2 separate regions of the Homo sapiens genome follow, and region 2 is linked to region 1. Evidence: fine-mapped expression QTL. Tissue or cell type: whole blood. Region 1 holds a variant in brackets; the other region holds the start of a gene. All regions are shown on one strand. Distances are from middle to middle.

Region 1 (7,443 bases):
GGATGATAAGGGCAGGTAGTACTCTGAGCAAATGCCAAGGTAGGTGCCAAGGTTTTTTCAGGGCTGGTGGACAAACCGATATGACTGAGATAGAATTTTCTGGTGCTTTAGAGAAGGTATGTCTAAAGGATTGGATTGGCTGGTTGCAGTGGCTCATGCCTGTAATCCCAGCATGTTGGGAGGCTGACATAGGTGGGTTGCTTGAGCCCAGGAGTTCAAGACCAGCCTGGGCAACATGATGAAACCCTGTCTCTACAAAAAAAAAAAAAAAAAAAAATATATATATATATATATATATATATATATATATATATATATATATATATATAAATAGCCAGGTGGGGTGGCATGCACCTGTAGTCCCAGGTACTCTGAATCCTGAGGTGGGAGGACCACCTGAGCCTAGGGAGGTTGAGGCTGCAGTAAGCCGTGATCGTGCCACTGCACTCCATCCTGGGCAATAGAGAGACTGTGCCTCAAAAAAAATAAAACTAAATAAATAAAGGATTGGATTGAGGCAGGAAAGAAACAGGTGCATTACTCAGCAAAAAGTTGGCAACTATGGTGGGTTCCGATGCAGGCAAGAGACATCACCCAAGAGGTAACTCAAACATGCATCTGGCTAAGATAAAATAATCTGGGAGAGCAGGTGGGGAGATAAACCAGTGTGAAGAATGCACCAACTGAAAAAGAATATTTACAGCCCACCCCACTGCTGTGTGTTTTAGCAGCAATGAAGAAGATACTGGATGTTGTGATGACCATGAGAATGAGGACTGATCCCAGGAAGAGCTGTTGCGTACAGAACCCACAGACAGCGTTTGCCAGCTGATTTTGTTGTCGCGTGGAAGGGAGAAGGGAGAATTTGAGTCCAAGTGACAAGGAGACGTAGGTTAATCTCGTGCCGTGGAGTGAACTGAGAGGGAAGAAGGACTCCATTTACACAGATTGGGGAAAGCGTTACCCAGTACAGGCCCAGGGTACACGTGCACCAAGCTAACTGAGCCAGATAGTTTATGACTCCTTTAGTGGAGGGGTTGGCAAACTATGGTCTGCGGGCCAAATTTGGCCCAACACCTATTTCTGGAAATGAGGCTTTATTGGAGCATACGCGCACCCATTTGTTTACATATTGTCTTTGGCTCCATATGTGCTACAGTGGCTGATCTGCATAATGGCCAGAGAAATCTTAAGGCTGAAAAGCTGGAAATACTTACTATCTGCAAAGCTGAAAATATTTACTATCTGACCTCCCTGTTCCTTTGTTCCTTTCCTTTCCCTTTCCCTTTCTTTTTGACAGGGTCTCACTCTGTCACTCAGGCTGTAGTGCAGTGGTGCAATCATGGCTCACTGCACCCTCGACCCCCTGGGCTCAAGCGATCCTCCCACCTCAGCATCCCTCCCAAGCAGCTGGGGCTACAGGCACATACCACCACACCCAGCTAATTGTTGTATTTTTTGTAGAGATTGAGTTTGCCCAGGCTGGCCTCCAACTCCTAAGCTCAAGTGATCTGCCTGCCTCAGCCTCCCAAAGTGCTGGGATTACAGGCGTGAGCCACCACACCTGGCTATCTGACCCTTTTCAGAAAGCGTTAGACCCCTCCTTTAGTGGACACAATCCCTGTTTTTAGCCCATATTCATCATTAAATACTCTGAGGCCAACTGTCTTTTTTATGACCTCTTGCTTGTGCCCTGTCTGTTGAAGCAGGAGGCTTCATATAAACGTCGCCTGTGGCATTATAGCCACCCACAAGAAAAGGAACTATTCCAAGAAGGCACTGTCTTCAGTTCCCACTTCAGGGGTTTCTGACCTGGGAAGAAGACAGGCAGGCACCTCGCCTATCATGTGTGTGTGGCTGCTGCCATCTGGTGTACAGATGCCGTTACTTCCTCACCTTCCTGGAGCCCTCCCCAGCTCCTTCCCATCTGTCCACCTCCCTACCTGGCCAGGTCAGCTTGCACCAAGGTGTTCATTCAGAGGTCATTGTCTCCTGAATTAGGAAGACTCTCAGCCAGCAGAGGGAGGCCTGTAGTTCAAGGGAAACACAGCTTGCTTCTTTCTTTTTTTTTTTTTTTTTTTTTGAGACGGAGTCTCACTCTTTCACCCAGGCTGGAGTGCAGTGGCACGATCTCAGCTCACTGCAACCTCCACCTCCTGAGCTCACACCATTCTCCTGCCTCTGCCTCCCGAGTAGCTGGGAGTACAGGCACCCGCCACCACGCCTGGCTGATTTTTTGTGTTTTTAGTAGAGATGGGTTTCACCGTGTTAGCCAGGATGGTCTCCATCTCCTGACCTCGTGATCCACCCGCCTCGGCCTCCCAAAGTGCTGGGATTACAGGCGTGAGCCACTGTGCCTGGCCCCAGCTTGCTTCTTTCTGTTCTGGTCCCATAGCAGTTTCTTTCTGTTTCAATCACAGAGGAATTCTTCAGACCGTATGTGCTTGGGGAATTGCATGCTTAAGCGGTTTTCCTTTCTGCTGTATCGTCACTTCAAAGAACATGTTCTCTGGAGAGGAGACATGCCCTCAGCTCCCACTTCACTCAGTGGCAGGCATCATTCAAACCAGCAGGGAGAGTAAGACTGTTTATGCTTAAACACTCAGCTTCACATACCACTTCCTGTTTTAAGCTTTGACTAAGCACGCGTCAAGAGACGTTTGTAGTCTGTGGACCTGCCTTGACCTACAGGTGCAGCGGCCATCCCAGAGCAGGCTGTGCACAGCAGAGGAGGCTGGCTGCGAACTTTAGTGTGCCATGGATAGTCCACAAAACACATCCCCAAGATATGACCGGACCAGCTACTGCTAATCAACACCCAGACACTTGGTAAAGGAGGCATGGTTGATTAGTCTACATTTGGATGTAGTATAGCCCATTAAATTACACATGGAGGCATCAAAACCAATTTTAAGATATATGTTTGCCTCTCTGATCAAAGAGGAAAGATCGTAAGTCAGATAAATCCTTTCCCCTGGCTTATACATATATATGTTGATATATTAACAATTATTTAAGACAGCAGCCATTAGTTAACAAAGCAACCCTTTATTTAGAAAGAAAAGTGGCATATTTTGACATATTTTCCTGGTCATTCATCAACATTAGCTAGTAGATGAGCATGTCTGTATGTGTAAGATACGTTACATGTGTGTCTACCTGTCCAAGCAGCCCCTCTACTTTTGCTCCAGTAGATTGTGTGTGTGTGTGTTTGTGTGTGTGTGTAGACAGGATCTTGTTCTGTTGCTCAGGCCGCAGTGCAGTGGCACAATCATAGCTTGCTGCAGCCTTGACCTCCTGGGCTCAAATAATCCTCCCTCCTCAGCCTCCCAAGTAGCTGGGACTCCAGGTGTGCATCCTGTAGATTATTGAAAGCATGCTTGCAGGTTACCTGTAGAGAAGTTACAAAGGAGACTTCATTGTTGTGGCGGGGAGGAGTCTCGGAGAACTCACATGGAAACATTTTAATTATAGTTCACTCTAACATCTTTGAACAAGCAAGCTGTCTTCACTGGCTCCCTCCAAGCCTCCATGCAGCTGCTCTTGCAATGCCTAGACCTGCCCCAGGCAGCACTCAGTCTCCCAGACTCGTGGAGCATCCTAGGGAGACCCTTACTTCCTCAAAGTTGCTGATCTTAACCTCCTCCCTGCCTAGCAACTTGGGTCTCAGCATTCCCAGCCTGGTCTCCCTGGAGAGTGGCTTTTAGCCTGAGAATTGGAGACCCAGCCTGAGGACACTAAGGTACTTGTGGAGAAAATACTTTGACATCTTGATCCCACTGTCCCCACCCTTTCACAGCAGAAAAATGCCCCTCCCACCCTTGAGTCACTTCGGCACAATCCTGTTCTATTCTTTATCTGCAATCGCACATTGTGCTCTCAATTTTATTTTATGCAGGCAAGCTCTTCTCTTGAACCTATCACACTACCCTGTCTGGAATTCTAGAGTGATCTATTGGCAGCTCCTTCTCTTCAGTTTTCCTGGCTCATCCTGCCACACTACACAGCCTCACCTTACAAAGAGACAGTGGAATTTGAAAGTGCCGGCTGGCAGCGGTGGACAGACGGCGCCACCACGCGGTAGCTTGGTA[G/T]CATAGGTTGCTAGACACAGTACCAGAAGGAAAAAGTTTGACCAGGAAAGGTGACTGTGTGTCGCTATCCAAATCTATGTTCGGCTTGTACAGAAGGTGTATCTGCAGAAGGCTAAGGACCATATATGTAAGTTACATGTAACTTTGGACATGTCCAACTTTGCTTTGGATATTTTTCAAAATAGTAACATCCTTATATTCTGGCTGTTATACCCTGATTTTTCACCCCCCATTTAATTAAGCATTTATAAAGCTCGTTATTGTCTTATTTTCCCATGTTGGGAATAAAAGTATAGCTTTTATGTGACCCTACGTAGAGGGGTAGAAATGTGAAATGGGCCAATTAAAGTGTCAGAAGCTACTCCAAGCTTTTGATGGTCTACCCTAGCAGGGGAGCATAGAGGTGCGAAAAGTCCTCACTTCCAGACACCCAAAAATCAGTTCAGTTTTTCTTTTTGCCATTTGGAGGGGAGAGGGTGACATTTACTTTTCTAGTGACTTAAAAACATAATGTTATTTATTGCATGCGTTCTGGGAAGTGAAGAAAGTGGGCCAGGCCAAGGAAGTCCACCGGATGCATGGGCAAAGCCAGACCAGGATCAAACAGGTTCTCACCATCCTATGTAATTTGCCATCAAGTCATTCATCAGTCTGTCCATCCATCCATCCCTTCAATCCACAGAGATTCACTGAGCACAGGATTCATCTTTTTGGAGAGAGAGAACTTAGAATAGTTATTTCATCAACTGCAACTGGGAAAACAGGCTTGAATTTGTAGGACTGGTGGGCTGGACATGACTTTGAAAGATCATCTTGCCTCTTAAGTATTTTTTTTTTTTTTAGCAGTTGAGCTTTTGGAACAAGTTCCTAAGCGAACACTCTGGATGGAATAGATACCACCCTTTCCATGAAAGTTCCCCTCTGCACTTGGCAGAAAATCCCTGATCTAGCCCAAGTCTCTAATGTTATAAGTGAAGAAACTGAAGTCTCAGAGTGGAAAAGGAAGTCATCAGGGATGACTCAAGTCAGAGCTCCTGGTTCCTGAACCCTGGGGCTCTTTCCTCCCCTCTAAGAGCTGATCTGTCTGTAGCTGGTCATGTTTCCATTTCAGAGGGTGGAGGGAACATCCAGGATGTCTCAAAAGGTCTGCTTTCCTCATTGTCTCAGCTTCCCCTCTGAAGCTCACTCCCCCCCACCGCTTTCTTGATGTTTTTTCTCTTGTCCCATTTGAACTGCAAGAAGTGCCCCTCCCATTCTTGGACCACCTGGAAGCTTTTGAGCAAGCTTTTGGAAAATTATCTGTTTTGTGCATTGCAATAGAAAACTCAAATGAAAGGAGCCAGATGGGATTGAGGGCTGGGAAGCGAACAGGGAGAAATGAATCATCTTGGGCCTCATCTCCAGAGTCCTTGTCCAAACCTGGGCAATTCTTATCCCCCTCTGTCCCTCTCTTTCCTCTCCCCTTCTCCCTTCCCATGGCTTTTTATGATAATGCTTTTCAAGCTCCCAATAAGAGCAACGTTTTACAGAAAAAAAAAAATAAAAGGGACAGTGTTTTGCCAGTAAGATGTGTGTTCCCGTGTTAGCACCACTGATCGCCCAATAGTTGCACGTCTAAGATTTTTCTTTGACTGAGAAATCCTACCAGGGAAGAAGAACTACTCCTTGGAGACTTTGTCCTCCACATCCCCAGTTCTGTGCTGACAAATACAATCCCGTCGTTACCTGGAAACCTGGTGATTTTCCAGAACACGTGGAGGAGAATGAAGAACTTAATAGCCATTTGCCTGCAAAATATGCCATCATGGAGCCTGGTGCTTGTGAATCTCTGGGTTGAATTGGATAAACAGATGGACAGATGGGTGAATGATCTGATTACCTGCTAACCTGAGATTGCCCACAAGGTTCCATCTTGGTCTGGCTTCGTCTGTGTCTGGCAGACTTTTACGACCCACTTTCTTCACTCCCCAGGACTGATGGAACAAATAACATTATTCAACGGAAGTCATTCGAAAAGTAAATGTATCACCTCAAAAATGGCAAAAAGAAAAATCTAGTTGATTTTGGGGTGTTCTGAAGTTAGCACTCTTCACGCCTGTACTTTCTTCTCCTAGCACAGACAATCCACATGTAGGGTGATGGTTGTGTGTGTTTGGGGTTGGCCTCACTGGTATTACAAATCCAGTTACTGTCATCCATCTCTTCCTGCTACTACTTACTCTGAAAGATGGTTTTCCTTTGAAGGATGGAGAAATTCTCTAATCCAGACCTCCTGACAGCTAGGCTGCAAACACACACACACACACACACACACACACACACTCTTACACTCCTACAAAGACAAAGAAAATCCTGGGAGGGATTTTAAGACACGTGCTCATTTCAGCACTCTGTCCTCCTGGTGACATCTCTCTATGAAGCATCTGGGACTTCACCTGACAAGCACCTGACAACCTGACTGAGCACTCGGCCCTTACTGTATGTGCCTCAGTTTCTACGTGCATCATGTGAGAAAGGCAGATTGTATCCATGGCTATGAGACTGTTGGGCTTTGTTGGACAATGAAGACGTCCCCCAAATATGTAAAGACTGACAAACGACGGCCACCCTTTATATTTTTCAAAGTGAAGGCATTGAAGGAAAGATGCAATCGTAGACCGCCATGGTCAGTGAATTATTTTATGAGAGATCACCCTTCTAGAAAGTGCAGCCAGGTGCAGTGGCTCATGCCTGTAATCCCAGCACTTTGGGAGGTCGAGGCTGGTGGATCACTTGAGGTCAGGAGATACAGACCGGCTTGGCAAACACAGTAAAACCCTGTCTCTACTAAAAAATACAAAAATTAGCCAGGCTTGGTGGCAGGCACCTGTAATCCCAGCTACTCGGGAGGCTGAGGCAGGAGAATCGCTTGAACCCGGGAGGCGGAGGTTGCAGTGAGCTGAGATCGTGCCATTGTACTCCAGCCTGGGCAACAGAGCGAGACTCTGTCTCAAAAAAGAAAAAAAAAAGTGTTATTTACCACCAGAAATTAGTTCATGAAATCAGGAGCTCAGGATAAAACAAAGTCCTTTCTGTCTTCCAAACAGAAAGACCAAAGACCTTCCAAAGACCTTACTTTTTCCCTCCCCCACCCCACCCCAGTTCAAATTCTGTAAAACAATATGAAAACCTTGCATAATAATACCTGGTTTGTCATTATGCTCTTGATACAAACTAATCCGTTTGAACTCCATTGGGCAATGCGACAAGATGATCTGGACTCTGCAATTTATTCTGCTACTGTTTTCATCTGTTGAAAATCTAGTTTCTTGAAATTGGACGGTGTATTTTTAAAATGTGTTCCCTTGACTTT
Region 2 (7,443 bases), 370 kb before region 1:
GGTCTGTTCCTGCATATCCCATCCCTTTGCCCTGGGGGCGTCAGGCCACCTTAGGTCCCATGGGAGAGAATAGGAATGGACTGTGGGTGGGGTGGAGGTCAGAGCCAGTGTATTTAGCTTTCAGGAAACATTTTCTTCTTTCTTCTTTTTTTGAGATGGAGTTTTGCTCTTGTCGTCTAGGCTGGAGCACAATGGCATGATCTCGGCTCACTGCGACCTCCGTCTCCCAGGTTCAAGCGATTCTCCTGCCTCAGCATCCCGAGTAGCTAGGCTTACAGGCGCCTGCCACCATGGCCAGCTTATTTTTGTATTTTTAGTAGAGATGGGGTTTCACCATGTTGGCCAGGCTGATCTCGAACTCCTGACCTCACGTGATCCACCCACCTCAGCCTCCCGAAGTTTTGGGATTACAGACGTGAGCCACCGCACCTGGCCCAGGAAACATTTTCTTCTGGCCAATACTCTGGCCCTTTTGACTGTAAGGAAGTATGTGAAAGGGGGCAGTTTGCATGTTTGCGGAGTGGGCATATGTGTGGGAGTTTATTGAGAAAGATGGGGAAATGGTAAGATTTGTCTCCTGGGGGTTAGCACCCCTCCCGCTTATGGGCTTGGTGTGGTTTAAAGAAAGTGAGATGCAGAAATGCTGATCAAGGTGGCTCTGGGTCTCATCCTGTGAGCCCTGAATGCCCCATGCAGGAAGGGCACCATCTCAGGAGTCAGCTGGGCTTGGTGTCCCACACTGCCCCATGGACCTTGGGTCACTCCAGAGCTTTCCTGAGCCTCAATTTCCTTATCTGTAGAATGGGGATAATGATACCTTCCCCTCAGAGTTGTGAGTTTTACATAAGAAGAGGATATAAAGATAAAGTGGCCCAGGTTGGGCATTCAACAAATGTTAGTTGCTTCCCCACTTTTCCTTTCCCACATCAAGTTTACCTATGCATTGCATGCAAGCATCTCTTGAGGACATGCTATAATATGAGGTGCTATCCTGGCTGGGATGAGGGGAAGAAGCTCAGTAAGGAGCTTGATTCTAATCCTGGGTCTGTATGCCGAATATAGCAGTGAAGTTAGATCCTACAGTATAAGACAGAAGGAGGCAAGTGCCTTAGAATCCAGATGGAGTTCTATGGGACCTTAGAGGATAGAGACTCGATTTGTAACCAGGGCTGGGACAGGTGGGAGATGAGGTCAGATGGGGTGCCCAAGGAGAATGCATTAAACCTGGGTCTTGCAGGATGGTGGGGCTTAGATTTGGGAGGCGAAGGGCAGTTCAGCAGAAATGGTATAAGGGAGATAGGAGTGGCAGGGAGGGAAGGCTGTGTGGAGGACAGCGAGCTGTCCAGCCTGGCTTGGCCAGAGGGCACAGGGAGGAGAACCCTGGGAGACAGACTTGAGAACGTTTAGTTGGAATCATACCACAGCAAAACTCAAATTCCAGGCTGAAGCATTTGAACTTTATGCCAAAGGCACTGGGGAGCTATCGGAGCTTTTTGAGCAGGAGAGTGTGATGTGCTGTGCTTTAGGCAGGCTGATCTTGGCGGTGCTACATGGAACAGACTAGACAGGGTGGAGTGGAAGGAGGTGACTCCATGACCTAGATGAGGGATGGGCAGGTTGAATCCTCACAGCAGCAGTGAGAAAGGAGAGAAAGGATTGGGCAGGAGAGGCACTTTGTGGATCGTTGTAAACATTTCTGTTTATTTTTCATTATAAAGAATTTAAGCGGCTGGGCGCAGTGTCTCACTCCTGTAATCCTAGCATTTTGGGAGGCTGAGGCAGGTGGATTGCTTGAGCTCAGGAGGTTGAGACCAGCCTGGCCAACATGGCAAAACCCCGTCTCTACTAAAAATACAAAAAATTAGCTGGGTGTGGTGGCACGCACCTGTAGTCCCAGCTAATTGGGAGGCCAGCTGAGGCAGGAGAATCACTTGAACCTGGGAGGTGGAGGGTGCAGCGAGCCGAGATTGCACCACTGCACTCCAGCCTGGGTGACAGGGCGAGACTCCGTCTCAAAAAAAAAGAAAAGAATTTAAGCATCCACAAAAGTAGAAACAGAAACATTTAATGAACCTCTACGTGCCCGTTCCCCAGGTTCAACAATGGTTAATTTTTTATTTTTAAGAGACAGGGTCTTTCACTGGAGTGCAGTGGCACCATTACGGCTCACTGCAGCCTCAAACTCCTGGGCTCAAGTGATCCTCCCCACTCAGCCTCCCTAGTAGCTGGGACTACAGGCCCAGCTACCATCTGCCACCATGTCCAGCTACTTTTTAAAAACTTTTTGTAGCGACGAGATCTTGCTTTTTTGCCCAGGCCGGTCTCAAACTCTTGGGCTCAAACAATCTGCCCACCTTGTCCTCCCAAAGTGCTGGGATTACAGGTGTGAACCACCATGCCCAGCCTAAGAATGGTTAATTCATGGCCAATTTTGTTTAATCTCTACTCCATCCACTTTTCTCTTCCATCATATTTTGAAGTGAGTCTAAGATATTGTGTCATTTTATGGCTATTGCAGCGTGCAGGAAGAGGTATGACATTTTGGAAGATGAGTTGATGGGCCGTGCCACATGGGTATTGTGTCTCTGTGTGCCTGTACATACTCTCTTATGTGGAATTGCAATGGCTGATTTGACTCTTCCAAGTTGGGGGTCTTTTAAGGGCAAAGACCACCCTCCAGTGGCCAGGCTGTCTTCTCCTCCCCATGGAGTGCTTGGTATATGGTGCGACCGTCAGTGTGAACAACCTAGTTCCACTGGAAGAAAGAGGCCTGTTATTGGACCCTTTGGGCTATGGCCATCGAGACCACGGGTAGCTTTTCTGCTCAGGTCACGCTCTGATATGTTGTCAAATAAAACACAGGACACTCAGCTGGGTTTCAGTTTCAGATCAACAACAAATATGCCTGTAACATAAGTATGTCCCACACATTGCCCGGGGCATATTTATAGTAATAAATGACGTTATTTTTCTGAAATTCAAATTTAATCAGGCTTTTTTTTTTTTTTTTGAGATGGAGTTTTGCTCTGTTGCCCAGGCTGGAGTGCAGTGGCGTGATCTTGGCTCACTGCAAGCTCGGCCTCTCGGGTTCACGCCATTCTCCTGCCTCAGACTCCCGAGTAGCTGGGACTACAGGCGCCTGCCACCACGCCCAGCTAATTTTTTGTATTTTTAGTAGAGACGGGGTTTCACCGTATTAGCCAGGATGGTCTCGATCTCCAGACGTTGTGATCTGCCCGCCTCGGCCTCCCAAAGTGCTGGGATTATAGGCGTGAGCCACAGCGCCCAGCCCAGGCATCTTGTTTCTATCTATTTATTTATTTTGTTTTGTTTTTGGCTAAATCTAGTCAATCCTATCCTCTGGTCTTTTCACAGAAATCCTGCAGATCAAAGCCTTTGACCTAGGGCAGTGCTTTTCAAAGGGTGGTCCCAGGACAGCAGCATCAGCAACTCCTAGCTCAAAACAAGATCTCAGGCCAGGCGCGGTGGCTCATGCCTATAATCCAGCACTTTGGGAGGCCCACACGAGTGGATCATTTGAGGTCAGGGGTTCGAGGCCAGCCTGGGCAACGTGGTGAAACCCCGTCCCTACTAAAAAAAAAAAAAAAAAAAAAAAAAAACAAAAATTAGCGGGGCTTGGCAGCATGCACCTGTGATCCCAGCTACTCGGGAGGCTGAAGCAGGAGAATCGCTTGAACATAGGAGGCAGAGGCTGCAATCACCCGAGATTGGGCCACGGCACTCCAGCCTGGGCGAAAGAGCGAGACTCCATCTCAAAAAAACAAAAGCAAAAACAAAAAAATCCCAAAATGTCAGCCCCACCCAGAATGACGGAACCAGAGCCTCTGGGGGTGCTGGCATTTTGTGTTTGACCCCCTCCAGTGATTCTTTTGAGGGTCATTGACTGGAGAATGATGCCGATGCCATCACATTACCCGCCCCCAGCCTCTCCCGCAACACACACACAGCACATCCTGCTCTGCTGCGCACCCAGTGGCATGGACCTGGCTGCCAAAGGTGTAGAAGCATAAGTAACATCAGGGGTGTTACAAAGGGCTCTTTCCTTGGGTGTTTGTAGCTTCCCTTAGGGCTGCAGTCACTCGCAGACTGCTGGGCTCTTGGCCTCAGGGCTCTGTTCTGCCCGCCCAGATCTGTTCCTGAGCCTGCAGACGGCTGTGAACCAGAGAATCTATTCTTCAGGCGGGAGTTGCCAGTTGCGGCCAAGGGGGCGGGGCCCGGAGGCGGGAGGGCCACGTGTGCGGGAGGGAAGCAGGAAGTGACTGCGGGAGTGGAGCCGGCGAGAGAGTGGCAGCGGGGGCTGATGGAAGTGCAGTGGGGGCTGGAGAGGGCACCCTAGTGAGTTGGCTTTTCTCTCCTTCGGTGCCTTTGGTTGGGCTCGAGGCCCGGGGTCGGAGGCCATCAGGACAAGAGTGTGGGACTTGGAAGGGCAGCCACCTGGAGCTTGGAAGGGGGTACGCCTGGAGAGAGGAGGGGTTTGGAGGAGAAATTGGAGGCTTTGGCAGGTGTCGGGGCGGGGTGGGAGGGTGAGGGGCGGTGGGAAGGAAGTCCCCGGACCCCGGCTATGTCCCTCTCCAGGGTGATCTGGAAGGCAATGACATGCCTTCCTTTTACAGTCCTAACCCAAATCCTCTTCGTTCGTCCCTTCCTAGGCGGTGTGTGGGGGTACCCGGGATTCCTGGGAGCAGAGGCAGCTACAAATCCAGCTGCTCCCAGGCCCCTCCCACTTGCTCTGGCTGTTAGCTGGACCTCTGGAACTTGACTGGGAATCTGGTTAACTTGCAGCAGGTCTGGGTGGGGCGTGACAGTGTGCATTTCTAACTAATTCCCAGGTTGGGTGGTCCGCGGACCACGCTTTGAGTAGCGAGGCATTAGAGAACTTTTCCACAGTCCTCTCCGCCCAGACCTGAATCCTTCTGCTGGATTCCCCCTCGTGGAGTTAGGGCATGTGTGTGCAGCTCCACTAAGGCCCAGCAGCCCTAGTGCTGTTTCCACTTCTGCAACTTCACCAGCCTCTTGAACTGACTCTTGGAAGCGGAACAACAGGTTTAAAAGGGGGAGAAAGGAAATAAAGAAAACAAACCTGTATCAATCAGCCGGGAATGCCCATGTGCTGCTGTGGCAGGTGTGTACAAGTCTACAGGCTGTTGGCATGTTAAAAGTTGGAACGGTCAGAGAATGATTCTCCCTGCTGCTAACGAATCAGGGTTGATGGAATTAATATCCCCATCGTGAGGAATTCTGAGCCCCATTGTGTAAGCTGTGATGGAGATGCTGTGTCCTAAAGTTGTTACTGGTCTGCCGGTTAGAGAAAACTTCTTGTTCTCTTGGGACTCTGCCAGAAACTTTTTCTTCTCTTGAGACTCTGCAGAAAACTTTCTGTTCTTTTGGGACTCTTCTTTGCTCTTGCCAATCCCACATGGGGCAGGAGAACTCATTTTCTAAGCTCTTGGTATTGTAGAAGTTTTACCAGTTTTATTTATTTATTTATTTTTATTTTTTTTTGAGACAGAGCCTTGCTCTGTCACCCGGACTGGAGTGCAGTGGCGCGATCTCGGCTCACTGCAACCTCCGCCTCCCGGGTTCAAGCGATTACTCCTGCCTCAGCCTCCCGAGTAGCTGGGACTACAGGCACTGGGACTACAGGCACACACCACGACGCCCAAGTAATTTTTGTGTTTTTAGTAGAGATGGGGTTTCACCGTGTTGGCCAGGCTGGTCTCGAACTCCTGACCTCAGGTGATCTGCCCGTCTTGGCCTCCCAAGGTGCTGGGATTACAGGCATGAGCCACTGCGCCTGGCCAAGTTTTACCAGTTTTAATCTTTTGCTTTCCACAGTTTAATGTGCATAAGAATCCCCCATGGAATTCCACAAAATGCAGACCCTGATTCAGAAAGTCTGGGGTGAGACCTGAGTTTCTGCATTCCTAACTAGCTCCCAAGCCGGACCAGTGCTGCTGGTTCTCTGACCACCCTTGTAGCGAGGATTTAAAACAGCAAATAGAGAAGAAACTTCTCCGAGGGGCACTGGGCTTGCATTGCCCGTGATCAATGCTGCTCCTGTTGGGATGGAAAGGATGGTGGCCTCGGTCTTCCCTCTGTGTCCCTTTTTCTTACTCAGGAGGGTGCTCAGATATACATGGGGACAGGCTTAGACGGGTGTTTCCCTATCCCACTAACCACCAGGAACACCCACGAGCTCCCTCTGTTCTGTTCACCAGCCCACAAGATCCACATTGACTTTGGCCTGTTGGCAAATGTAAATTGTTTGCTCTCTTCTGTAGCTGTCAAGAGGCACATTCAAATACAGGAAAGAAAGGTGTTTTTGTTATGCCCTGTCTTGGATGATAAGTACTAAGAGGATGATCCCTTTGTGCTGTTCTTTGTAAATGCTGTTTGAAATTTTGTCCACAGCAACTCGGAATAGATGATTGGTGTAATGGTCCAGATGGCTTGGTTTAAAAACAAAGACCAACCCCTCTTTTTAGGGTGGCTTAGCAAGATGACGGATGTAAAGGGTAGTAGTTTTTTGAAAATGATTTTTTTTTTCTTTAATTGGCGTGGTCACAGTTTTCACAGTTGGTGCAGTTCGTTTAGAGTGCGGGAACTAGAGTCTGATTCCATAGATGCTATTTATCTCAGAGTTTCTGGCACAGGGGCTGAGCCAGGGCTCACCTGGGCTCACCTGGACCTATACCCTTCCTAGGTTTGAGCCTGGGTGTGTTGCTGAGCCGCTTGGCATAAGGGCTGCGTCCACACTCTGCCATGGTTTCCTTCCAGGGTCAATCGAGGCAGCGTCTTCAGCTCTTGATCTGCAGGCTCAGGGCTGCTGGCTCCTCACAGAGCACCGGGAACTGGCAGGGCTGAGCCCAGTGTGGTTGTGTCCAGCCAGCCCTCTGGGTGCTGGCAGACCATCAGGGAGATGAATGAGGCTTTGATATGAGGCCCTGAGCCCAGTGTTTGTGTACCAGAACACAGGGCTTTTCAACAAATGGGTTTCTCTGCCTTGTAACTTTCCACAGGGAGAGATCTGATTGTCATCTCAGATCCAGAATTTTAAGCATGTTAAAGTCTGGAGGAGGTTCTCTGGACTGAAATGAGAGGGAGTGGTACTTCCCTTCCTTTCCTTGGTGGGCGGTGGTGTAACTTCAGCTTCAGCAGCAGGGTGCTGAGTTGACCAGGGGACATTCCATTCCTGGGTCCTTTTGCTTGTCCTTGCTGACTGTCCTGTGCAGGTAAGCTGGCCCTTTTCCATCCAGCACATATTTTTCAGGGGTTACAAAGCCCTATTTTACAGGGGTGCCAAATGTGAAAAAGCACCGTCCCCGTCCTCAAGCAACTAAGGCTGTAAAAGATGGAGGCAAAGCCACACTGAGAGAGGACCAAAGCTGCATGCTAGGACAGGGCTGGGGAAGGCCAGAAAAG

The links. PIP is the estimated chance that this variant, and not a neighbour inherited with it, causes the effect.
Region 2: SLC39A11 starts here. The variant in region 1 is fine-mapped to the expression of SLC39A11 in whole blood (TOPMed, PIP 0.99).

What each region holds. Positions count from the first base shown.
Region 1 is chr17:72,722,292-72,729,734 of GRCh38, reverse strand. All of the region lies in intron 7 of SLC39A11 (solute carrier family 39 member 11), which reads left to right. Among named protein-coding and RNA genes, the nearest start is that of LINC00511, 86 kb to the right of the region's middle. RefSeq lists enhancers at 1,751-2,045, 4,125-4,194 and a silencer at 4,005-4,074. The variant G/T (reference allele first, on the strand shown) is at 4,092.
Region 2 is chr17:73,089,524-73,096,966 of GRCh38, reverse strand. SLC39A11 (solute carrier family 39 member 11) reads left to right here and starts at 4,279. Exons shown (of 10, transcript NM_139177.4): 1 at 4,279-4,356. RefSeq lists a silencer at 5,119-5,350 and enhancers at 6,321-6,821, 6,822-7,322.